7 linked regions of the Homo sapiens genome follow. The protein of the gene in region 2 interacts with the protein of the main gene of each other region in a pairwise test. Each region holds a gene or a part of one and is shown on either strand. Other genes may lie near its edges.

Region 1 (3,500 bases), on a different chromosome or scaffold from region 2:
CGGGTGTGGTGGTACCTGCCTATAGTCCCAGCCAATTGGTAGGCTGAGGCCAGAGAATAGCTTGTGCCAGGGAGGTAGAGGTTGCAGTGAGCCATGATCATGCCACTGCACTCCAGCCTGAGCAACAGAATGAGACCCTGTCTCAAAAAAAAAGAAGAATAAAAAAGATCCTTTCAGACAAGCAAATGCTGAGGGAATTTGTTTACCAGCAGACCTGCTGTACAAGAGCTCCTGAAAGAAGTACTAAATATGAAAAGAAGGCCGGGTGTGGTGGCTCATGCCTGTAATCCCAGCACTTTGGGAGGCTGAGGCAGGCGAATCACCTGAGGTGTGGAGTTCGACACCAGTCTGGCCAACATGGTGTAACTCCATATCTACTAAAAATACAAAAATTAGCCGGTCATGGTGGTGGGTACCTGTAATCCCAGCTACTCGGGAGGCTAAGGCAGGAGAATTGCTTGAGCCAGGGAGGCAGAGGTTGCAGTGAGCAGAGATCATGCCATTGCACTCCAGCCTGGGTGACAGGGCAAGACTCCATCTCAAAAAAAAAAAAAGGCCGGGTGCAGTGGCTCACGCCTGTAATCCCAGCACTTTGGGAGGCCAAGGCAGGTGGATCACGAGGTCAGGTCAGGAGATCGAGACCATCCTGGCTAACATGGTGAAACTCTGTCTCTACTAAAAATACCAAAAAAAAATTAGCTGGGCATGGTGGCATACGCCTGTAGTCCCAGCTACTCGGGAGGCTGAGGCAGGAGAATCACTTGAACCTGGGAGGCAGAGGTTGCAGTGAGCCAAGATCACGCCATGGCACTCCAGCCTGGGCTACCCAGTGAGACTTTGTCTCAAAAAAAAAAAAAAGAAAAAGGAAAGAAAAGGCCATTACTAGCCACTACAAAAACACATTTAAGTACACAGACAAGTAACACTATAAAGCAACCACACAAACAAGTCAGCATAATAAACAGCTAACAACACAATGACAGGATCAAATACATGCATATCAATACTAACCTTGAATGTAAATGGGCTAAATGCCCCAATTAAAAGGCATAGAGTGGCAAGAGCTGGATAAAGAAATAAGACCAAATGATATGCTCCCTTTAAGACACCATTCTTGGCTGGGTGCAGTGGCTCATGCCTGTAATATCCCAGCACTTTGGGAGGCCGAGGCGAGTGGATCACTTGAGGTCAGGAGTTCGAGACCAGCCTGGCCAACATGGTGAAACCTCGTCTCTACTAAAAATAGAAAACCGCCAGGCGTGGTGGCGCGTGCCTGTAATCCCAACTATTTGGGAGGCTGAGGCAGGAGAATTGCTTGAACCTGGGGGACAGAGGTTGCAGTGAGCCGAGATTGCGCCACTGCACTCCAGCCTGGGCAACACAGCAAGACTCTGTCTCAAAAGAAAAAAAAAAGACCCATCTCAGATGCAATAACACCCACAGACTCAAAATGAAGAAATGGAGAAAAATCTACCAAGCAAATAGAAAACAGACAAAAGCAGAGTTGCAATCTTAATTTCAGACAAAACAGACTTTAAGCCAACAAAGATCAAAAAAAGACAAAGAAGTGCATTGCATAATGGTAAGGTATTCAATTCAACAAGATCTAACTAACCTAAATAAATATGCAGCCAACAGCAGCACTCAGATTCATAAAGCAAGTTCTTAGAGACCTACAAAGAGACTTAGACTCCCACACAATAACAGTGGGAGATTTCAACACCCCACTGACAGTATTAGACAGATCACTGGGGCAGAAAATTATCAAAGATATCCAGGACCTTAACTCAGCACTGGATCAACTGGACCTGATAGATATCTACAGAACTCTCCACCCAAAAACGAGAGAATATATCTCATCTGTACATGGTACATACTCTAAAAACCACCACACAATTGGACATAAAATAATCCTCAGCAGATGCAAAAGAACCAAAAGCATACCAGCCACTCTCTCAGACCACAAATCAATAAAAATAGAATTCAAAACTAAGAAAATCACTCAAACCCATACAATTACATGGAAATTAAACAACCTGCTCCCAAATTACTTTTGGGTAAATAATGAAATTAAGGCAGAAGTCAAGAAATTATTTGAAACAAATAAGAACAAAGATACAACAGACCAGAATCTCTGGGACACGGCTAGGGCAGTGTTAAGAGAAATTTACAGCACTACATGCCCACATCAAAAAGTTAGAAAGATCTCAAATTAACAACCTAACATCACAACTAAAAGAACTCACGAAGCAAAAGCCTCCAACTCCAAAGCTAGCAGAAGACAAGAAATAACCAAAGTCACAGCTGAACTCTAGAAGACTGAGACACAAAAACACCATTCAAAACATCAAGTAAGCCAGGAGCTGGTGTTTTAAAAGAATGAATAAGATAGATAGGCTGCTAGCTAGACTATTAAGAAAAGAGAGAAAACCCAAATAAACACAATTAGAAATGACAAAGGGGATATTACCATTGACCCCACAGAACTACAAATAACCCTTAGAGACTATTATTAACACTTCTATGCACACTAACTAGAAAATCTAGAAGAAATGGATAATCTCCCGGACACATATACCCTTCCAAGATGGAACCAGGGAGAAACTGAATCCCTGAACAGACCAATAATGAGCTCCAAAATTGCATCAGTAATAAATAGCCTAACAACCAAAAAAAACCTGGACCAGACGGACTCACAGCTGAATTCTATCAGACGTACAAAGAAGAGCTGGTACCATTCCTACTGAAATGATTCCAAAAAAACGGAGGAGGAGGGACTCCTCCCCTACTCATTCTATGAGGCCAGCATCATCCTGATACCAAAACCTGGCAGAGATACAACAAAAAAAGAAAACTTCAGGCCAATATCCTTGATGAACATTGATGCAAAAATCCTCAACAAAATACTAGTAAACTGAATCCAGCAGTACATCAAAAAGCTAATCCGCCACAATCAAGAAGGCTTTTATCCCTGGGATGCAAGGTTGGTTCAATACATGCAAATCAATAAACATGATTCATCACATAAATAGAACTAAAGACAGAAACTACATGATCATCTCAATAGGTGCAGAAAAGGCTTTTGATAAAATTCAACATCTCTTCATGTTAAAAACTCTCAACAAACTGGAGTTTTTTGGTTTTGTTTTTTGTTTTTTTTTGAAACAGGGTCTTGCTCTGTCGCCCAGGCTGGAGTGCGGTGGCACAATCTGGACTCACTGCAACCTCTACCTCTGGGGCTCAAGTGATCCTCCCACCTCAGCCACCCGAGTAGCTGGGATTACAGGCGCGCATCACCACGCCCGGCTAATTTTCCTATTTTTAGTAGAGCGGGAGCTACCATGCCCAGCCAACTAACTAGGTTTTGAAGGAACATACCTAAAATAATAAGAGCCATCTATGACAAATCCATAGCCAACATCATACTGAATGGGCAAAAGCTGAAAGCGTTCCCCCTGAAAACTGGCACAAGACAAAGATGCCCTCTCTCACCACTCCTA
Region 2 (3,500 bases):
GTGTGTGTTTGCTTTAGATGTGTGTCTGCTTTAAAATGCTAAACTTGTTCCATTCCATCTTATTTTCAGTCACAAAGAGCCAAAGAAACTGGCAGGTGTCCACGCGCTCCAGGCCAGTGAGTTGGTTGTCACTTACTTTTTCTGTGGGGAAGAAATTCCATACCGGAGGATGCTGAAGGCTCAGAGCTTGACCCTGGGCCACTTTAAAGAGCAGCTCAGCAAAAAGGGAAATTATAGGTAAGAGTCCTGTGGCTTTTTTCTGCTCTCAGTTTGTTTGCTCAGAACCAAGAGCCAGAGCCTGGAGCAGCTCCCCTGGCTGAGCAGACCTAGGTGGGGCAGGGTGGGAGGGGGCTCAGCAGGCGCTGGGGGAGGCTCCCTTCTCATTTCTTCTCTCCCCTCACCGCTAGCAGCAATAACGAAGCAGCAGCCGCAAGAGGGAGGCTGCGTGGAGGGTTCTCTGGGGGACCTGGCCAGGCTCTTTCCACCAGGTGAACCAGACTGAGGAGAGAAAAGGAGCAGCTGCTTGCACCGACAGGAGAGTGGGGCTCAGGCCACACTGCAGAGGCTTTACCTGCAATTGAGGGGCTTGTGGGCGAGTGGGGAGCAGGGAGCAAAAAGAGGGACAGGCACACTGATTAGGAGGGAGGGTCTGGAAGCGCCGCCCTACTGGCTTGAGTTTAGGAGAGACCCCCACATTGAAGGCTCCAAATAGTCAGGAACCATGCCTAGGAAAAGTCCCCCGTGTTTTTCTTACCCTGCCTTTCCACCTGAACAGCCTCCCTGGATTTTATGGGCCATTAGAAGCAGAGATGCGCCTTTGTCCATAACAAAGAAGGGGCTGGACCTGCGGGTGGGCACAGGGTGAATAGGGCAGTCTACTCCTCCTGTCCAGGCCTGGGCCCCGCTGCCTTCTCCCCTGCAGGGGCTTCAGGAAGGGAACTTCCTGGTCTCCTTACCTTGTCTGCAGAGTGGACGGAGGTGCCCTTGAGAAGGTCCATGCTGACTTTTTAGGGCCCTTGAGAGGGTTCAAGAGCTGAGGAGGATGAGGGCCAGCCCTAGGCCATTCCTTCTCTTGATCATTTCCCTCGTAAGGAGCAGGTGATGACTCTGCCTCAGTTCATCTGGAGTCCTCCCTTGCCCCTCTCCATGGCCTGCAGCCCAAGAGAATGTGTGGATTCTGCTCCAGTTCTGTCCCAGGTTTCCCAGGTTTAGGGCTCCAGGCTGGGACAAGGGTGAGACAGGGGCACCCTAGTTTAAGGAGGTGCTCACTCTGGGGTCTACACCCAAGACAGAGTTCCAACTCCTCAGCTGTGTGCTGTTGTCCCTGTGCCAGGACCACAGTCTATTCCCAGGTGTGAACCCGTTGCCGCCACCAGGGCCAGGGGTGTGAGTGGAAAACTCTGAATAGCACTTGGTAACCTGCCAGGTGGGCATGGGCTCCTGGACGGGGATGAGTCCACCTGCAGGGCTCTGAGACACCCTCCCCTCTAGAGCAGGCCTTGTATAGTTTTACCAGCCACCTTCATCTGGGAGTTAGTTTGGGCGGGGGCTCAAAGTGATTCTCTTTGGAGTGGGGAGGGGATGGAGGTTGGACTGAGCCCCTGGAGGTAACTGGCCAGCAGGGCGTGTTGCTGGGTCTGGATAGTCCCTTTTATACCTGGGCAGAGACAATTGTGAAAAGGTATCAAAGGGGTGGGGGAACAGGCCTGGCTGCTGCTGCTGCTGCTTTTATCTTGAAAAGACACAAGGTGAAACTAATGACACAAGTGTGTCCCTCTGGGGATTCATTTTGATCTTGGCTTTGTCTCGGCTGGACTTCGAGTGGAACTGCAGGTGACCTTGGAGAAGAGCCATGTGGCGCTGGCATAGGCTTGTGGGGAAAGTGCCTCCTTCAGCTGCTGTGGCCACATCTGGCTCTGATTTTTTTTTTTTCTCCCTGAGGCACAGTTAATAAGCCTGGCTTTGAAGCCCTGGCCTCCCCTTTAATGCACAAAGACTTGCACAAATGGTCAACTCTCCGATCCTCTCCAGTTCTTTCCTGAGTGGATCAGGCTGTGGGAAGGCCCTCCCAGCTGCCTTATCTCTGCAGGGCCTGAGCTAGACTCAGTGTCCTCCTGGGGTAGGACAGGGACACAGGGTGTCACGCCTCACCCTCCCAGCAGGGCTGGTGCTTCAACATCTCAATTTGTACAAATACATCCCCCCTTCAAAAAAATAAAAAAGACCCAGTGAGGTTGGGGCCGTGGAGCAGGGGTGGGAGGTGGGGGGGACCTGGGATGCGTTGAGTAATCTCAACATGGCAGGGGTTCAAAAAGCAAACAGTCCCTTCAGACGCGCCAGACGCTGTTGGTGCCAGATGTCAGAAGAAAGCAAAGTTTGCCACATGAAGCATGTTGCAGTGGAAAAGCCTGTTTCTTGGAGAAAATGAGGGCAGTGCAGTGTGTTTGAAGTCCTGGGGGTGGGGCTGAGAGAATGTGGCCTCTCTCCTCTCTGGAGGAGGTTGCAATTATGTAAAAGGTCGCTGCGTGTTTGCTCAGACATGCTGTGAAAGCCCAACTTGGTAAACCCTGGAGGGGTCGGAGCTGGGGCCAAAGGGGTCTGACGGAGGGTGGCGTTGGGATTTGAGCCTCTTATGTGGAGAAGTGACTTTTCCCCCCACTGTCCTGAGTCTCCTGTGCACAGAGCCCCTCCCCATTTTCTCACTGTCTCCTCTCACGCTCCCCCGAGAATTTTGACCCCTTGACATGACGTGTCTTCAGTGCTGCCTAGTCAGAGCCATGCCGTTGTTCACCCCACTGCATTAGCTGGGTCAGGAATGCTAAAAACAAAGAACCTTGACTAAACCCAGCTGTTCACTGTATTTAGCCTTATCTCCTACGAAAGTATTTGGCTTGCCTTTATTAAAGAGGGAAAAAATTGAGCTCTAACCAAGGGGAGTTAATTTTTTTTTTTTTAAAGGGAAAAGACAAAGCCCAACCATAACCCTGAGACACAATTAAATGCTTGAAAGGTTCTCCCATCCCCCCAGGGGACTGTGACCTTCCCTCTGTGAGTGGCCTTTATGGGCTGGAAATGACAGCTTGCAGGGGCAAGTTTAATCCCTCTGAGGGGTCTCCCTTGGCTGGGGACAGGGAAGGAAGAGGCCCTTGCTTAATTTCCTCGGAAGGGGTTTAGGGGTGGGCCTGGCCCAAGAGGACAGCAGTTGTTTCCGAATGTGGCACTCCTGAGAGGCCAGGCATTTGCATCTGTACAATTAAACAGCCTCAGAAGAAAGAACGCTGGGGAGGGATGAAAGGAGCCTTTAATCAACGGGCATAATAGAAGGGCCTTTGGTGTTTGACCCTGGAGGGATGGGATGGGAGAAGAGGCCTGGAAATGGGGAGAAGAGGGGAGGGCATCATGGGGCCAGTGCCGTCTGTTCGGCCCTGGGAAGCTGCGCTGGGCTGGCTTGCCTCCTGTGTGGCTGTGCCAGGGCCATCCAGGAGTGTTGCACTTGGGAC
Region 3 (3,500 bases), on a different chromosome or scaffold from region 2:
AGTGGCACGATCTCAGCTCACTGCAATCTCCGCCTCATGGGTTCAAACGATTCTCCTGCCTCAGCCTCCTGAGTAGCTGGGACTACAGACGCACACCACCACGCCCCCGCTAATTTTTGTATTTTTAGTAGAGACGGGGTTTCCCCACGTTGGCCAGGATGGTCTTGATCTCCTGACCTCGTGATCCACCCGCCTCGGCCTCCCAAAGTGCTGGGATTACAGGCGTGAGCCACCGTGCCAGCCGAACTAAATTGTGTTTCTAAATCTTATACCACATCAAATGCATTACAGACACAAGTATATTGGAATAATTTACTAAAAATGTCCATTATGTACTGAGTATTAGCTCATTTAAAAAAATAGAAAACTCAATAACGTAAAATGGAATATTCCTTTTTTATATAAATTTAAAGGCAGAAAATCTCAGGGAAAACAAACTTCTTTAACTCTACTCAGTTTTTCCTTGCTGTTCTATTCACATAGGTTTTTATATAAATATACATTTATACATTACACTCAACAAATTTCAAAAGCAATTTGATTTGTATAACCAAGGATGATTTGTATAACTCAAGATAAAATGCCAAGAGTGCAACCTCCGCTTTAATGAAAATGCTCTTCTTCTGAACAATGAAAATGCTTTTATTCTTGAAATCGGGGAAAACTCCCCTTCCACCACCACCACCCCACACACACACACAAAAAATCAGCTAGAAAATGATAAACATTCCAACAAATTAATTTACTTATGGTGATTATGTTCTTAGAAGAACAATATCCGGGGAACCCGGTTGGTCCTGTTAGTACCAACACACACTCTTGTCTCACCCACACAAGCGTTCTGCCCCTCCATTCTCCATTATAGGGTGGAGCATCACAAGAAGCACCACAATCTCACATCCTGTCTGTCATCTCCAACCCTGTCTCAACTTCATGGGTCTTATTTAAAAGTATGGAACTGTGACAATAGGGTCAACATATGCATGTTTCACAGCCTTCTCTATGCATAAAGTGCACACACAAATAGAGCTCTCCCACTCTTTAGACTCTGCTGCTGGAATAAAATCTCTGACTTTCCCAGCCTTGCTGTTTCTCCAAAATATTATCTCACACCTGCAACTCAATTCTAATATAAGGGCTACACAGTAAAGCGTGCAAGTACTGATTTTCAGCTGAACTTTGCCAGTGAAATGAGAAGATGTCACCTCATTTTCTAAATGCAGTTCCCAATCAGCCATAAGGTGATTTGTGAATCACTGGGTTCCCTTGAAGTTTTTCCTTTTGCCTGTGACTTACTGTCACTTCACAATTAGCATTCTACAGGTGCATGCAACAAGAAAGCATGCAATTCTTAAATATCTTAAACGTTTTAACAACTCTGGGGAAGTCGGGTTGGGAAATGACTGAAAATAAAGTTCTGGTTTTCAGTCTCACACATGAACTCTTTTCCACATTAACACAGGATTATCAAGAAATGGACTAAACTCTAATAACCTAATTTTTAGATGTCATAAAGAGATTAAACTTCCCAGGGGAATACGGAAACTCTAAGTTGCTACCTACTCTTTGGCTTTAATCACCATACGACGTAATACTGCAGAATAATATGCAGCTACTATTATTCTCTCTTTGCTAATAGAAATTTTGATCTAAAAAAGTTTTATATGAGGAAACAACTTAAGTGATACAGACTTATTTTCATATTTCTAAATCTTATATTTAAGTATTAAACCTAAACAACTAGCTAAATTTTCTCCAATTGTATATACCAAAAGGATTACTAATATTTTAACCAAAAGTGCCACAAACAGTCCCTTACTTTCCCTATGGAGTAAAATATCATGTGATTCTAAAGAAAAACTTTATAAACATTTATTTAATTACATGTAAACTTGGAAGTGAACAAAAATGAAACATTGGTTTCACTATAGCAAGTAAAAAGTAGTATTTCAAATATACTGATTTAAATTTGGGATTAATGCCTAAACTCAACAAAAAGGGCAAAAAATACTTGTTATAAAATCAACTTTTAATTTCTTCTGGAGTCTTCACAAAGTGAAGGCTCTCAATACTTTATTCTTAGATAAATTTTGCATTTAAAATAATAGTAATAATCATTATTTATAAAAAACAAGTTTTAAGCATATATCAAAGATTAATGGCTACATATCTAAAATGTTACAGTCACAGTTTAGTCCCAAAAGTATTTTCATTGATCTGAAATAAGCCATCATGAAACTATTATAACCAGGTTTCAAGTGTGAGGCTTTTGAAGCTGTATATAAAAAAAAAAAAAATTAGGACTTTGATGAGAAGCATTTAAATAAAAGCCCTTAGTTTACTGCTCCCGAATATAAATCCAACATCTTTAGGTGTAGAAAAATTAGAAACTGTGCAATTAATAGACTAGGAAGTCAAATATCATTGCCAGTAACTAACTGCTGTCTGAATTTCAAGGGAACTTATTGTATATTAAATTTTAAGAAAGTGAACTCACCTACCCTCTCACCTCAGCACTTTCTCAATTTTCCCATTACAATTAACAATATAACTTAGCAGTCAAGTCTTCCAGGCCAGTAACATCAGAATTTATTTTTAACTCTTGACTCCTTCACAAATATTCCACTTCAGTCCAGTATGAAGTTCTGCCAGTTCTTCATTCACACTGTCTCTCAAACCTGTTCCTTTCACCCCACTTTCACATTTTACTTTATTCCCTCATGATTCACAACATACCCTACTAGCTCCCTAAAAAGGCTCTAGCATCTCTCTACTATAATTCACTAATTCAACTGCAAAAATCATCTTACGTCTTATTCAGCAACCAACAATAAATCCAGATCTCTTCTGAATCTCAATCAAACTTGTACAGAACCCCTCTGCCCTCCATCAGCTAACTTTCTCTTATTTCTCAAATTCCATCTGTTCTTATGTTCTTATTTAGGCCCCTTTAATTCAGATTTGTCAACTTGATTATTGTCTCTCATGCAAAACTCACCATCATTGTTCCTTGGTACACTCCTTCCACCTAGACCTTTCATGCTTTTCTACCAGTTCAAGTTACCACCTCCTTTAACATCAGTCCTAATACACCTTGTCCGCAGGAAGTCTTTCCTCTCCCAACCATCAGTCTCACCCCTTTACTCTTTGCCACTCTGAACAAATGATTCAATTTGTATTTTACAATCTTGCAGTCATCACGCTATTGTTTTAATTTTTTTTTCCCCATAGCCTCCCTCTACAACTAAAGGATAAGCTTTTGAGAGCAAGGACTACAATTTCTTATGTCTGTTTTCAACAGGGGTTCCTTAGAATGCTAGCATCCTAACAAATGCTTAAAGACTCCCCTTTCTTTTAAATGCTTTTAAAGTCAAAGCTGTCAAAAACACATAATTAACACTAAACTCCAACTTTTAAAATTCTAAATTGACCTATATGGTAATCGGAATTAAACATTTTCATCTATATATTTTACAAGAGTTACTCCATCCTTAGTTAGT
Region 4 (3,500 bases), on a different chromosome or scaffold from region 2:
GAGAAAATTTTATAAAATAAATACACGTTAGAAAAGATTTCAAATCAGTGGCGATACATTCATCTTAGAAAGTTAGAAAAAGAAGAGCAAATTAAACACAAAGTATTCGCAAAGAATAAATATAGTTTAAATCAATGAAATAGAAAACACACAACCAGAGAAAATTCAAGGAAACTAAAAGGCAATAAAGAAAGATTAATAAAACTGATAAGCCTCAAGACAGACTGACAGAGGAAACAAACAGAAAATAGAAATTACCAAAATCAGGGATGAAAGAGGGGTATCACTATGGATTCCGTAAACATTAAAAGAACAAAGGAAATATTACAAATAACTTTATGACAATAAATTTGACAATTTCTATGGAATAAATTCCCAGAAAAACCGAAATTACTAAAACTAACTCAAGAATAAACAGAAAGTATTTAACACAACTATTAAAGGAATTAACTCTGTCGTTAAACCCATTCCACAAAGAAACTCCAGGACCAAACCGTTTCACTGGCAAATTTTAACACTTATAGATGCAAAAAAAGCACTTACCAAATTCAATACTCATTCAAGATACAAACTCTCAGAAAACTAGAAATAAAATGTCATTTCCTTAATCTGAAAAGGCATACATGAAAGTCCCACAGCAGACATCATGCTTAAATGTAAAAACCTGAATGCTTTGCACCTAAGATAAGGAAAAAGGCAATCATGTCCACTCTCACCACTTCCATTCAACACTATTTTTAAGTCCTAGCTACTGAAATAAGGCAACAACAATTAACAAATAAAACAGGCACAGAGACTGAAAAGAAAAAAGTAAAAGTCTTTTTCACACATGACATACCATTTACCTAGAAATCCTAAGAAATCTACTAAAAAAGCTACTAACACTAGTATTAGTAATTTTAACATGGTGATAAGAGGCAAGGTGAATATATCAAAAGCAGGTTTTTTTTCACTTTTTTCTTTTTTTTCTGATCCTAATGTTTCAAGTCACTTCTATAATTACATACTAGCTGTAAACACATTTAATTTAAAATTCCACTCACGATAGCACTTCCAGAAAACAAAATGGAAAAAAAATAACAAACGACATGTAAGATCTCTACACTAAAAATTTCAGAACATTGTGAGAAAAATCAAAGACATAAATGGATAGAGAGATGTACCAAGTGCATAATGGATTGAAAGAATATTTTAACATATCTATCTCCCTAAATTCCTTCCAATAGGGAAAATTCAGCCTTTTCAACAAATGATGCTAGAAAAACTGGAAATCCACGTGGGAAAAAAATAAACTGACACTACACAACATAAATAAAAATTATTAATGGATTATAAATAAGCAAAAAAGCCAAAGCTATAAAACTTCTAGGGAAAAAAAATAGGAGGCCAAGCATGGTGGCTCACACCCGTAATCCCAGCACTTTGGAAGGCTGAGGCAGGAGATCACTAGAGCCCAGGAGTTCGAGACCAGCCTCGACAATATAGTAAGACTCCATGTCTACAAAAACAACTTTTCTGTACTACATCTGTAGTCATAGCTAATTGGGCTGCTAAGGCAGCAGGATTGCTTGAGCCCAGGAGTTTGAGGCTGCAATGAGCCATGATGGTGCCACTGCACTCCAGTCTGTGCAACATAGTGAGGCTCCATCTCTAAAAACAAACAAAAAACAAAAAAATTTAATAATAACATAAACATAGGAGAAATCACAATCTTGAGGTGCGCAAAAATTAGGATACCAGAAGCACTAAGAAAAAATGATGAAAAACAAAAAAGAAAATATTTAATAAATCAGATTTCACAAAGACATGGAATGCCCTATGGGGACTTAAAATGATGCTCTACATCCTTGTTCTTCAGAGAAATATCACACGAGACATTACACAGTAGAATAGCTAAAAATTACTAAGACTGACAATACCAAGTACTAGCAAGGATGTGGAATTCCTTGGTGACTCCTAGTGCTAAACTTGCCTCAGAGCCAATGGACAGGTGGTTGGGGGGCAACTGGTGCAGCTAAGGGAGTGCTTACACCACCTCTCCCCCAACCCAAGGCTGCACAATGTGCAGCTCCAAAAGAGACCCTGTCCTTCTGCTTGAGGAGAGGAGAGAGAAGAGTAAATACAGGACTCCATCTTGCATCTTGAATACCAGCTCAGCCATAGCTGGTAACCACTAAAGAGCCCTTAGGCCCTGAATAACCAGCACCAATAATCGGGTACTACACTGTGGCCTTCACTGTGTATCTGAGACTTGCTGGATTCAGGTGAGACTCAGCACATTCCCAGCTGTGGTGGCTATGGGGAGAGCCTCCTTCTGCTTGAGAAAAGTAAAGGGGGCTCTGTCTTGCGCCTTAGGTACCAGCTCAGCCACAGGGTGGTAGAACACCAAGAGGGATCTTGGGGTCTCCAGCCCCACGCCTTGGCTCTTGGATAGCATTTCTGGATCTGCCCTGGCCCAGGGGGTGCCCACTGCCCTGAAGGGTGAGTCCCAGGCCGGGCAGCTGACTGAAGAGTTCTTGGGCCTTAAGGGAACATCAGTGGTAGCCTGCCAGTACTACCTGTGGGTCTATGGTGGTGGCTACAGGGTGAGGCCCCTCTGCCTGTGAAAAGGGAAGAGTGGGAAGGACTGCCATTCATAGGTTGAATGCCAGCTCAGCCACAGTTCAATAGAACACCAGGTACAAGTCTAAGGTTTTTGACGCCAGTACCTGGGTCCCTGATGGCACCTCTGGACCCACCCTCAGGCCTGGGGGAACTTGCCACCCTGAAGGGAAAGACGCAGGCCTGGCTGGCTTCATCACCTGCTGATTGCAGAGCCCCAGGGCCTTGAGTGAACACCAGCTGTAGCCAGGTAATTGTTACAGCAGGCCTTGGGCAAGATCCAGTGCTGTGCTTAGCAATAATTCCCAAATCATATCCCTATCCTCTTAGCCTTTCTCTGAAATTCAAGATCAACATTTCCAATATTTTCTGGACATCTCTAAGTAGATGTATCCCAGATATTTTCATATCATAACTAGTAATATATTTTTTACGTTTTCTTGTATTTTAACTTCCCATAAGTTACACATTCAAATAAAATGTTCTCAAATAGCTGCTTTGATTAATTTTAGTACATACTTACTGATGAGCTATCAGATGACTCATTGTTTTTTTCATATTTCTGTTTCTTGCTCTTTTTTTTCTTTTCTTTCTTTGCTTTTTTTGAATGCTTGTCTTTTTTCTTCTTTTTCTTCACAGAGTGTTCCTACAATCATTTTGAACAGGCAAGAAAATAATTTAATTTCATCTTAATTTAAAAGGATGTATTCTGAGAGAAAAAAAATAAACCACATTCTAAAAAACTTTCAATCTCTGATGAAATAAGACCAAGAATATGTCTAAATAAATAAAATCTTTCAGGAAATCTTAACACACCTTCTATAATATATGCACTATCAATAAATCATATAACTGAGACTTCTTACCAGAAAAATACTGGGAAAATTTTGGCTTTATTT
Region 5 (3,500 bases), on a different chromosome or scaffold from region 2:
CAGTCAAGGCTGGAATCTGATTCCCAAACCCTCTACCTTAACCATTTGGTTACACTTCTTCCCAGGAGAGAAAGGGACCTGGCAGGGCTAGCGCGGGTGGTTCTGAAGGTCGCGCTCTTCCCAGGTGTTTGGCCAGCGCAGAATGGAATGGAGGTGCCCTGTGAGCTAGGAGAGGCTCAGGGAACTAGAAGGAGATGGAGGAAGTGGAAGTTGAGGAATAATTGGTGTTTAAGGGCCTGGCATTTGGAGCTTAGACTAGTCTGGATGTAGGAGAACTGAGCCTAGACTGGAAAGGAACCAGACCAGGGCCTCGGTCTTGGCAGGGAGGGCCCTTGGGCAGGAGGAGCTCCAGGGTGTCAGAATTTGATTGGAGTTGAGTTCCAGAAGTAAGAGGGATGTAGGGGCAGGGAGTTCCTAGGCCTCACTGAGGAATAGAGAATGGGGAAGAATGCTGAGACCGCATTCTGGGAAAAGTCCAATGCCTGGAGTCTGGGACTCAGGATCCTAGATAGAGTTCGAGGACCCAGATGCTTCCACGGGACCAGAGTGAGCTGGATGGCCACTACCTGTCTGTTGTTGCTTGTGCCAGGTAGGGGGGCAAGCCTCATGTGCCCATGCCTGATTTTTTTTTTTTGAGATGGAGTCTTACTCTGTCACCCAGGCTGGAGTGCAGTGGCACGATCTTGGCCCGCTACAACCTCTGCCTCCCAGGTTCAAGCGATTCTTGTGCCTCAACCACCTGAGTAGCTGGGATTGCAGGCATGGGCCACTATGCCTGGCTAATTTTTTTTTTTTGTATTTTTAGTAGAGACAGGGTTTTGCCATGTTGGCCAGGCTGGTCTCGAACTCCTGACCTCAAGTAATCCGCCCCCACCTCGACCTCCCAAAGTGCTGGTATTACAGGCATGAGCCAGCATACCTAGCCCTGATTTTTCAAGACAAACTGAAAACTGGATTTAGATGTGAAATCTTTTTTTTTTTTTTTTTTTTTTTTTTGAGACGGAGTCTCATGCTGTCACCCAGGCTGGAGTGTGGTGGCGTGATCTCGGGTCACTGCAACCTCCGCCTGCCGGGTTCAAGCGATTCTTCTGCCTCAGCCTCCCTAGTAGCTGGGACTACAGGCGTGTGCCACCACTCTCGGCTAATTTTTTGTATTTCTAGTAGGGACGGGGTTTCACCGAGTTAGCCAGGATGGTCTCTATTTTTTTTTTTTTTTTTTTAAGACAGAATCTCGTTCTGTCACTAAGGCTGGAGTGCAGTGGTGTGATGTCGGCTCACTGCAACCTCTGCCTCCTGGGTTCAAGCGCTGCAACCTCTGCCTCCTGGGTTCAAGCAATTCTTGTACCTCATCCACCTGAGTAGTTGGAATCACAGGCGTGCGCCACCATGCCCAGCTAATTTTTTTGTATTTTTAGTAGAGATGGGGTTTTGCCACGTTGGCCAGGCTGGTCTCGAACTCCTGGCCTCAAGTGATTTCCCTGCCTTGGCCTCCCAAAGTGCTGGGATTACAGGGGTGAGCCACCATGCCCAGCTGTTTTTTATTTTATTTTTATTTTAAGGCTGGGTATGGTAGCTCATGCCTGTAATCCTTGAACTTGGAGAGCCCGAGGCAGGAGGATTGCCTGAGACTAGGAGTTCAAAACCAACCTGGCCAACATAGCCAGGTTCTTTTAAAAATAATAATAATAATAAATTTTATCTTATTTATTTATTTATTATTATTATTTTTTGAGACAGAGTCTGTCGCCCAGGCTGGAGTGCAGTGGCGCGATCTCAGCTCACTGCAAGCTCCGCCTCCTGGGTTCACGCCATTCTCCTGCCTCAGCCTCCCGAGTAGCTGGGACTACAGGTGCCTGCCACCATGCTTGGCTAATTTTTTTTGTATTTTTAGTAGAGACAGGGTTTCACCGTGTTAACCAGGATGGTCTCAATCTCCTGACTTCGTGATCCACCCACCTCAGCCTCCCAAAGTGCTGGGATTACAGGCGTGAGCCACCACGCCTGGCCCTGGCCTATCCTTTTTAAAACTTTATTTTGGAGAAAAAAATCAGAAGGTGCCATTTGGCTTTTACATGTCAGCAATAAGTTGAAAAAAAATTTTTTTTTAAGTGGGGTGGCTGGGCGCGGTGCCTCACGCCTGTAATCCCAGCACTTTGGGAGGCTGAGGCCTGTGGATCATGAGGTCAGGGAGGCTGAGGCAGGTGGATCACAAGGTCAGGAGATCGAGACCATCCTGGCTAACGTGGTGAAACCCCATCTCTACTAAAAATACAAAAATTAGCTGGGCGTGGTGGTGCATGCCTGTAATCCCAGCTACTTGGAAGGCTGAGGCAGGAGAATTGCTTGACCCAGGGAGGCAGAGGTTGCAGTGAGCCGATATTGAGCCACTGCATGCCAGCCTGGCAACAGAGCAAGACTCTGTCTCAAAAAAAAAAAAAAATGGGGTGAAGAAAACACATCTGTGGCCTGGGTTTAACCTGTGGGCTTCCAGCTCCTGTGGGAGGGGAATAGTCTGGAGACAAGGAATTGGGGGATACTCCAGGGGACCTTGGAGCTGGGACACAGGGAGTAGCTGCCTGGCTGTTGTTGGGAGTGAGTGTGAGTAGGGAGGAGCAGCCGAGAGAGTTGGTTGTATTCTGAGACTCTCCCTTTGCCCTCAAGAACCGAGAGCTGCAGATCATGCGTAAGCTGGACCACTGCAATATTGTGAGGCTGAGATACTTTTTCTACTCCAGTGGCGAGAAGGTGAGATCTCGAGGTGGTGGTGGTGGGTTGCTCCAGCCATTTTCCTGCCTGCCTGCCTTTCCCCCACTGCTCCCTGCATACCTTCCTTCCCCCTCCTCACTCTTCTCACAGTGCCTCACACCTCTCCTTTGCTCCCTGCAGAAAGACGAGCTTTACCTAAATCTGGTGCTGGAATATGTGCCCGAGACAGTGTACCGGGTGGCCCGCCACTTCACCAAGGCCAAGTTGACCATCCCTATCCTCTATGTCAAGGTAGGCCAGCAGGTGGGCTGCTGGGACCCAGGCCCACAAAGCCAGGGGCTCTGGAGCCTCCTGCCTTTTATGGGATCCCTCATCCGCCAAGTTTATGTTGGTTTTTGGAGGCCCCATGTCCCCTGCTGTTGTTCCCATAACCCCCCGAGATGGAGCTCGCCTAACACAGGGGAGGGCCAAGGCAGGCAAGGCCTGACTGAATCAGGAAGGCAGCCTGACACCTGGGGTTGCAGAAGCTGCCAGGTAGTTGCTCAGGTCCATACAGGGAGTCCAGTGGCACCAGAGATGTTGGAGTTAGCTCAGGATAAGGGGGTGGTGGGGACCAGGACTGCACAGAGACAGCTGCTGAGGCCAGAGTTCGGGCCTTTAGAGCCTTGGCTGGGGGTAGGTGGGAAGGAGTTAGGGCTGGAGGAAGGTTAGCATCCACAGAGCCAGGAATGCATCTCCGTCCATCATCTGTGCAGGCTCATTCCCCAGTGCCTGGCATCGTGCCCTGGGTGTTA
Region 6 (3,500 bases), on a different chromosome or scaffold from region 2:
CAATAGTGAAGTAAGCAGATTTTACACTCACTATCACTGCATGGATAGAAAGAGCCATATACATTTTTGTTTTTATAAGTCATCTCAGATCACTGCAACATGGCACATTAGAACAGAGATTCAGAGACACAAAGTTAATAAATACATTTAACATTGCCAAGCATTTAAAAGATAAATGCACTCATGTAGCAAAAAAAAAAAAATCAGTTTGTAACTTTGACCTTTCTCAGGGATGTGAAGAATCATTTCAGGTGTCAGAAATCTCTGTAGCAAAGATTCCTATAAGAGAAAAAATCATGCTGATTAATATTTTTAATTCAACTTTTTCAACATGTGTAACAAATTTATTCTAGTAAGTGTATCACTTCAGCAAAACGTAAGATTTTTCTTCATTTCTATGAAGGAAAACAAAAAACAATATATTTTTTCACTCAGTTTTCACAAACTGGTACATTCATACCATGGAATACTATTCAACAATAAATAGGAATGAACTATTGATACTTACAGCAGCTTGGATGGATCTCACGGGCATTATGCTGAATGAGAAAAGTTAATCTGAAAAGGTTATCTCAAAACGACAGAATTATAGAGATGGCGAAGAAAGTAGTGTTTCCCAGGAGACAGGGAGATGAAGAAGGTCAGGGCTACAACTATAAATAGGCATAATGAGGGAGTGAATTCTTTGGTGCTGATGGAACAACTTCACATCTTGATCATAGTTGTGCTGTGTGTGGATTGTAAAAAATATATATATACACATACAAACAAATGAGTGCATCTAAAAACTAGTGAAATCTGAATAAGGCCTTTAGACTAGTTAATCACACTGTGCTAATGTCAATATCCCAGTTTGTAAGATACTCCATTATAGAAGCTGGGGTAAGGATATGTGGGACTGTCTGTGGTATTTTTGCAACTACTTGTGAGACTATAATCATTCTATTTTTATTTTTTAATTACTATTTTTTGGAGACAGAGTCTCACTCTGTCACCCAGGCTGAAGTGCAGTGACATGATCTCAGCTTACTGCAACCTCTGCCCCCAGGTTCAAGCAAATCTCATGCCTCAGCCGCCTGAGTAGCTGGGATTACAGACATGCGCCACCACGCCCAGCTAATGTTTGTATTTTTAGTAGAGATGGGGTTTTGCCACGTTGGCCAGGCTGGTCTCAAACTCCTGGCCTCAAATGATCCTCCCACCTCAGCCTCCTAAAGTTCTGGGATTATAGTCAGGAGCCACTGTGTATGGCCAAGACTATAATCATTAAAAAAAAGTACCTGTGGTACATCTATACTATGGAATACTACTCAGCAGTTAAAAGGAATATGTGACAACTACTAATACATGCAACAACCTGGATAAATCTGAAATATATTATGCTGGGTGAAAGTCAACCACTAGAGGCTGCATACTGTATGATTCCATTTACATGACAACCTGGGAAAGGCAAAACTAGAGAGGCAGGAAACAGAGCAGTGGTTAGAGGAAAGTAAATTCAATGTGATGTCTGTTGTCTAGATAATAGGTGTCAGTCAAAGGACACCATTTGAAACTGAGAGTAAAAGATTAAGTGAGAAAAAAGGTGATTAAGGGCATTGTTAATCATATTAATAGAAAGGTAACAACTAAAATAAAATAAACTTTCATAAAAGCCAAAAGAAATTTGTTAAAAAGCAAAGAAGACTGATCAAATGAAGAAATACAACAAATATCACATAGTACAGAAAGTAATTATAACTATTGATGTGACATAACAGTCATATCAATAATGTAAAAGATTTTAACTCATCTATTTTATTTATACTGTTCTATTCTATTTTTGAGACAGGGTCTCATTCTGTTGCCCAGGCTAGAATGCAGTGGCATGATTATGGCTTACTGAAGCCATGACCTTCCAGGCTCAGTTGATCCTCTCACCTCAGCCTACCAAGTAGCTAGAAATACAGGCACGTGCCACCATATCTGGCTAATTTTTTTTGTGTGTGTATTTTTTGTAGAGATGGGGTTTCACCATTGCCCAGGCTGGTCTGTAACTCCTAGGCTCAAGCGATCTGTCTGCCTCAGTCTCCCAAAGTGCTAGGATTACACGTGTGAGCAACCACGCCCAGTGTAATTCACCTATTTTTTAAAAAGATTTTCAAAATGGCAGGGTGTGGTGGCTCATGCCTGTAATCCTAGCACTTTGGGAGGCTGAGGCGAGTGGATTACCTGAGGTCAGGAGTTTGAGACCAGCCTGGTCAACATGGTGAAACCCTGTCTCTACTAAAAATACAAAAACTAGGCCAGGTGTGGTGGCTCATGCCTGTAATCCCAGCACCTTGGGAGGCCAAGGCAGGTGGATCACCTGAGGTCAGGAGTTCGAGACCACCCTGCCCAACATGGCAAACCCCGTCTCTACTGAAAAAAAAAAAAAATGAGCTGGATGTAGTGATGGACACCTGTAATCTCACCTACTCAGGGAGGCTGAGGCAGGAGAATCACTTGAACCTGGGAGGTGGAGGTTGCAGGGAGCTGAGATCCTGCCATTGCACTCCAGTCTGGGGGACAAGAGTGAAACTCTGACTTAAAAAAAAAAAAAAAAAAGGGGATCGTTCCAAGATGGTCGAATAGGAAGAGCTGCAGTCCACAGCTCCCAGCGTAAGCGACACAGAAGATGGGTGATTTCTGCATTTCCAAGTGAGGTACCAGGTTCATCTCACTGGGACTTGTTGGACAGTGGGTGCAGCCCACAGAGTGTGAGCCAAAGCAGGGCAGGGCATCGCCTCACCTGGGAAGCGCAAGGGGTCGGGGAATTCCCTTTCCTAGTGCTCGGGACACTCCCACTCTACTACTGTGCTTTTCCAGTGGTCTTTGCAAACAGCACACCAGGAGATTATATCCCATGCATGGCTCGGTGGGTCCCACACCCATGGACCCTGCTTACTGCTAGCACAGCAGTCCGAGATCGAACTGCGAGGTGGCAGCAAGGCTGGGAGAGGGGCATCCACCATTGCTGAGGCTTGATTTGGTAAACAAGGCAGCCTGGAAGCTCGAACCGGGTGGAGCCCACCACAGCTCAATGAGGTCTGCCTATCTCTGTAGACTTCACCTCTGGGGACAGGGCATAGCTGAACAAAAGGCAGCAGAAACTTCTGCAGACTTAAACGTCCCTGTCTGACAGCTTTGAAGAGAGCAGTGGTTCTCCCAGCATGGAGTTTGAGATCTGAGAACGGACAGACTGCCTCCTCAAGTGAGTCCCTGACCCCCTAGTAGCCTAACTCAGGGACACCTCCCAGTAGGGGCAAACTGACACCTCATACAGCCAGGTGCCCCTCTGAGATGAAGCTTCCAGAGGAAGGATCAGGCAGCAATATTTGCTGTTCTGCAGCCTCCGCTGGTGATACCGAGGCAAACAGGATCTGGAGTGGACCTCCAGCAAACTCCAACAGACCTGCAGCTGAGGGTCCTGACTGTTAGAAGGAAAACTAACAAACAGAAAGGAATAGCATCAACATCAA
Region 7 (3,500 bases), on a different chromosome or scaffold from region 2:
TTGCTCTGTGTTACAGAGCAATTTTTTCTTCTCTGACAAAACATCTCAAATGTGTCCCTTTGCAAAGTTAGTCATTATTCAAGTTTCCGTAAGACAATATACAAAATCTCATTCCAGAGGTAAGCAACTTCAAGTGTTCCTAACCAGAAAAGTTATTTTTCAATCACCCTAAAACTTTTACATAAGAATTGGGGTGTGTGTGTGTGTGTGTGTGTGTGTGTGTGTGTGTGTGTGTGTGTGTTGAGGGGAAAGATATGAAGAAAATAGGGATAAAGTTAAAATAACCAATTTGGGTTTCTACTCTCTTCCATGAGTTATTTCATAATCTGCATTAACCTTACAATTACCAAATAGTCAGGATGATGTTTTTAAAAATTCCAACTCCCTAATTCTGCCGCTATTTACGATACCAAATTCCAACTGACTGTGTTTGACCAAAATCAATGCTTGTGGATTAGAGTACCTAGGTGTGTCCACTCTAATTGAGTATGTGTGGGCTCATGACCTTTCTGTGCCTTCCCACTCATCATCATTAGCATATTATTTTAAACACTGTACTATTTAACAGCTACATTATGCATGAAAACAACATTTTTAGGCTAACCTCAACTTGTAACCACCATTTTAAACTTTCAGTTGTTTGCAAGTAGCTTTGGCAGCCTTCTTAGCTACTTTTCAGTTAAATGGTACTGTGCTATCGTCTAGACTAATGGTTTTCCAACTTAACTGTTTATTAGAATCAATTGCAAAATTTGTGAAAAATGCTCCTCCTGAGCCCCCACACACAGATATTTGGAGTTTGTAGGCCTGGAGTGAAGCATGATCTAGTTTCTCAGTTCTTTGAACATGCTATACGCCATCTCCCACAAGGCCTGTGCACATTCTAGTTTCTTTGCCTAGAAATTTCTACCTATCCTCACGTCCTCAATGAGTACTTATTTATTTATTTTTATTTATTTACTTTTTTTCTTTGAGACAGAGTCTCACTCTGTTGCCAGGCTGGAGTGCAGTGGCGCGATTTCGGCTCACTACAACCTCCAGCTCCCTAGTTCAAGCGATTCTCCTGCCTCAGCCTCTCGAGTAGCTGGGATTACAGGCATGTGCCACCATGCCCAGCTAATTTTTGTATTTTTAGTAGAGACGGGGTTTCATTGTGTTGGCCAGGATGGTCTCGATCTCCTGACCTCATGATCCACCCGCCTCGGCCTCCCAAAGTGCTGGGATTACAGCCGTGAGCCACCGCACCCGGCCCACAATGAGTATTTATTAATGCCTAGTCTTTATGATGCACTGTGCTAGGTGCGCAAAGATAAATAAGTCATGGCCTTTAGTCAAGGATCTCTAGGTAGAGAGGAAGAAGAAGACACATAAGCTAATTGTCATATAGTGTAAGTGCAAGAGCAGGAACAGGAAAATTTTTAGGCGAGCATGGGAGATGTTCACCCTGGGTAATTTTGACACAGATTGTGGAAGCAATGGTTCTGATTCTTCAGAAAGTGTTTTCTCTGCTCTTTTGGAGAAAATATAAACATCTGGCTGTGGTCTCCTTTTATAACCTATTTGGACCTCTTAGAGAATTTTAATAAGTCATTCAACCCATATCTGAAGATATATTCTTAGATTTTGCTTATGTACTTGATCAAAGATGTCTTTAATCATTGTATTTATTAGATGCTATTTGCTTTATTGGCACATTTGAGATGCTAAAATGTTTTGACTCTCTACTACAACATTTTCCAAAGTGTGTCTACTTTGGGATGCTTGAGATTTCACAAAGTTAAACAGTTTCTTTACTGCCAGAATTCTCTGACCTTTACTGTATACACAATGAAGATCTAAAATAGTGATGGGCATAGTTTCCATCATTTCCAAAACTTATTGACTGATTGGATCTATGAGAGACATTTTTTTTTTTTTTTTTTGAGACGGAGTTTCGCTCTCATTGCCCAGGCTGGAGTGCAATGGTGCGATCTCGGCTCACCACAACCTCCGCCCTCCGGGTTCAATCGATTCTCCTGCCTCAGCCTCCCAAGTAGCTGGGATTACAGGCATGTGCCACCACTCCCGGCTAATTTTGTATTTTTAGTAGAGACAGGATTTCTCCATGTTGGTCAGGCTGGTCTTGAACTCCCGACCTCAGGTGATCCGCCTGCGTCGGTCTCCCAAAGTGCTGGGATTACAGGCATGAACCACCACGCCTGGCCAAGGCTTTTTTTTTTTTTTTTTTACAGAACACCTTGAATATTTGGGAAATGTCTCTACAACCTAAGCTCCCAGGACTTCTTTTTCCTTTTGAGGCTGCACTTTCTCCTACAATAAACGCAGTACTTACCGGAGCAGTTGGGGGAATATTTAAAAATCTCTCTCGTGGGTAAAGTCACTTTCCCCTTGGCATCTGAAATGAAAGAAATGAAAACAGATTTCCCATTATGCGGCACCATGCCAAGTTCACATCTAAAGTATCCCCTTTGTTCTCCTACTCGCATCCTCCAGGCTCAGAGGTATCTCTCATTTATCACTTCTTTGACAACATTATGTGGGCTGGGAGAAAAACAAAGCTCATTCACAGGGCTATTCTGAGCTCAGAATCCATCTAGTCAACCTACTAATTTTATAGACAGGGAAATTGAAGCCTAGGGAGTTTCAGAATCCACCAAAAAATGTTACTCATCTAGTTGATGTGATTGTGAGATTAGTCATAAAGCAAGGGATGGACTTTGTGTCACTGACATCGCAGGACCAAAGTGGTACAGAAGCAAGCATCATATTGGTTAAGGAGCATTTATTACACCTCAGTTAATGAATTTTGTCTTTCTAGTTACAAGTGAGCTTCAGTGGTACCTTCTGAGAGGCTCCTGACTAGGACATCAGTATTCTGAAATGTCTTCAGACATCCATTTACATAGTCTTCCTTTATTTTTTGAGACAAAGTCTCACTCTGTTGCCCAGGCTGGAGTACAGTGGTGCGATCTCAGCTCACTGCAACTTCCACCTCCCAGGTTCAAGCGATTCTACTGCCTCAGTCTCCCATGTAGCTAGGATTACAGCCACGTGCCACCATGCATGGCCAATTTTTATATTTTTAGTAGAGACGGGGTTTCACTGTGTTGGCCAGACTGGTCTCGAACTTGTGACCTCAAGTGATCTGCCCACCTCACCCTCCCAAAGTGCTGGGATTGCAGACGTGAGCCACCGCGCCCGGCCCCTAGTCTTCCTTTGAACGGTCCGGTCACTCTCCCAGATAGTCTGTTTCATCTGTTTTAGCTTGATTTCTAGTTTCTCTGAGAGAGTAATAAACTGCAGCTTTGATATTTTCTGAAGGAGATGGTATTTTCTGAAGGAGACTAAATTTTCTGAAGGAGATGATAAGAAGACCAGAGAAATTCAAGGGAAAGAGGAATAAGCAGAGACAAAGCTTGACAGGTAGATTCATAGAGAAGCTAGAACCTAGACCAGACCTTGACAGGGAGGAGAGTTTACAGAAGCAGATGGAAGGGGAG

Evidence for each region.
Region 1: the proteins of AXIN2 (region 2) and AP1M1 interact in binary tests that used the Homo sapiens proteins (3 or more experiments, as listed by UniProt).
Region 3: the proteins of AXIN2 (region 2) and GSK3B interact in binary tests that used the Homo sapiens proteins (3 or more experiments, as listed by UniProt).
Region 4: the proteins of AXIN2 (region 2) and CWF19L2 interact in binary tests that used the Homo sapiens proteins (3 or more experiments, as listed by UniProt).
Region 5: the proteins of AXIN2 (region 2) and GSK3A interact in binary tests that used the Homo sapiens proteins (3 or more experiments, as listed by UniProt).
Region 6: the proteins of AXIN2 (region 2) and TSGA10 interact in binary tests that used the Homo sapiens proteins (3 or more experiments, as listed by UniProt).
Region 7: the proteins of AXIN2 (region 2) and TXLNB interact in binary tests that used the Homo sapiens proteins (3 or more experiments, as listed by UniProt).

The regions. Positions count from the first base shown.
Region 1 is NC_000019.10:16,211,411-16,214,910, reverse strand, and holds part of AP1M1 (AP-1 complex subunit mu-1), read right to left. Parts: intron 1-3,500. UniProt on the Homo sapiens protein: Subunit of clathrin-associated adaptor protein complex 1 that plays a role in protein sorting in the trans-Golgi network (TGN) and endosomes.
Region 2 is NC_000017.11:65,530,649-65,534,148, reverse strand, and holds part of AXIN2 (axin-2), read left to right. Parts: intron 1-69; coding exon 70-237; intron 238-3,500. UniProt on the Homo sapiens protein: Inhibitor of the Wnt signaling pathway. Down-regulates beta-catenin. Probably facilitate the phosphorylation of beta-catenin and APC by GSK3B.
Region 3 is NC_000003.12:120,087,948-120,091,447, forward strand, and holds part of GSK3B (glycogen synthase kinase-3 beta), read right to left. Parts: intron 1-3,500. UniProt on the Homo sapiens protein: Constitutively active protein kinase that acts as a negative regulator in the hormonal control of glucose homeostasis, Wnt signaling and regulation of transcription factors and microtubules, by phosphorylating and inactivating glycogen synthase (GYS1 or GYS2), EIF2B, CTNNB1/beta-catenin, APC, AXIN1, DPYSL2/CRMP2, JUN, NFATC1/NFATC, MAPT/TAU and MACF1.
Region 4 is NC_000011.10:107,451,326-107,454,825, forward strand, and holds part of CWF19L2 (CWF19-like protein 2), read right to left. Parts: intron 3,248-3,500; coding exon 3,125-3,247; intron 1-3,124.
Region 5 is NC_000019.10:42,236,103-42,239,602, reverse strand, and holds part of GSK3A (glycogen synthase kinase-3 alpha), read left to right. Parts: intron 1-2,661; coding exon 2,662-2,745; intron 2,746-2,886; coding exon 2,887-2,997; intron 2,998-3,500. UniProt on the Homo sapiens protein: Constitutively active protein kinase that acts as a negative regulator in the hormonal control of glucose homeostasis, Wnt signaling and regulation of transcription factors and microtubules, by phosphorylating and inactivating glycogen synthase (GYS1 or GYS2), CTNNB1/beta-catenin, APC and AXIN1.
Region 6 is NC_000002.12:98,997,943-99,001,442, forward strand, and holds part of TSGA10 (testis-specific gene 10 protein), read right to left. Parts: intron 280-3,500; coding exon 255-279; 3' UTR 1-254. UniProt on the Homo sapiens protein: Plays a role in spermatogenesis. When overexpressed, prevents nuclear localization of HIF1A.
Region 7 is NC_000006.12:139,281,999-139,285,498, reverse strand, and holds part of TXLNB (beta-taxilin), read left to right. Parts: intron 1-2,332; exon of another isoform or gene 2,333-2,395; intron 2,396-3,500. UniProt on the Homo sapiens protein: Promotes motor nerve regeneration. May be involved in intracellular vesicle traffic.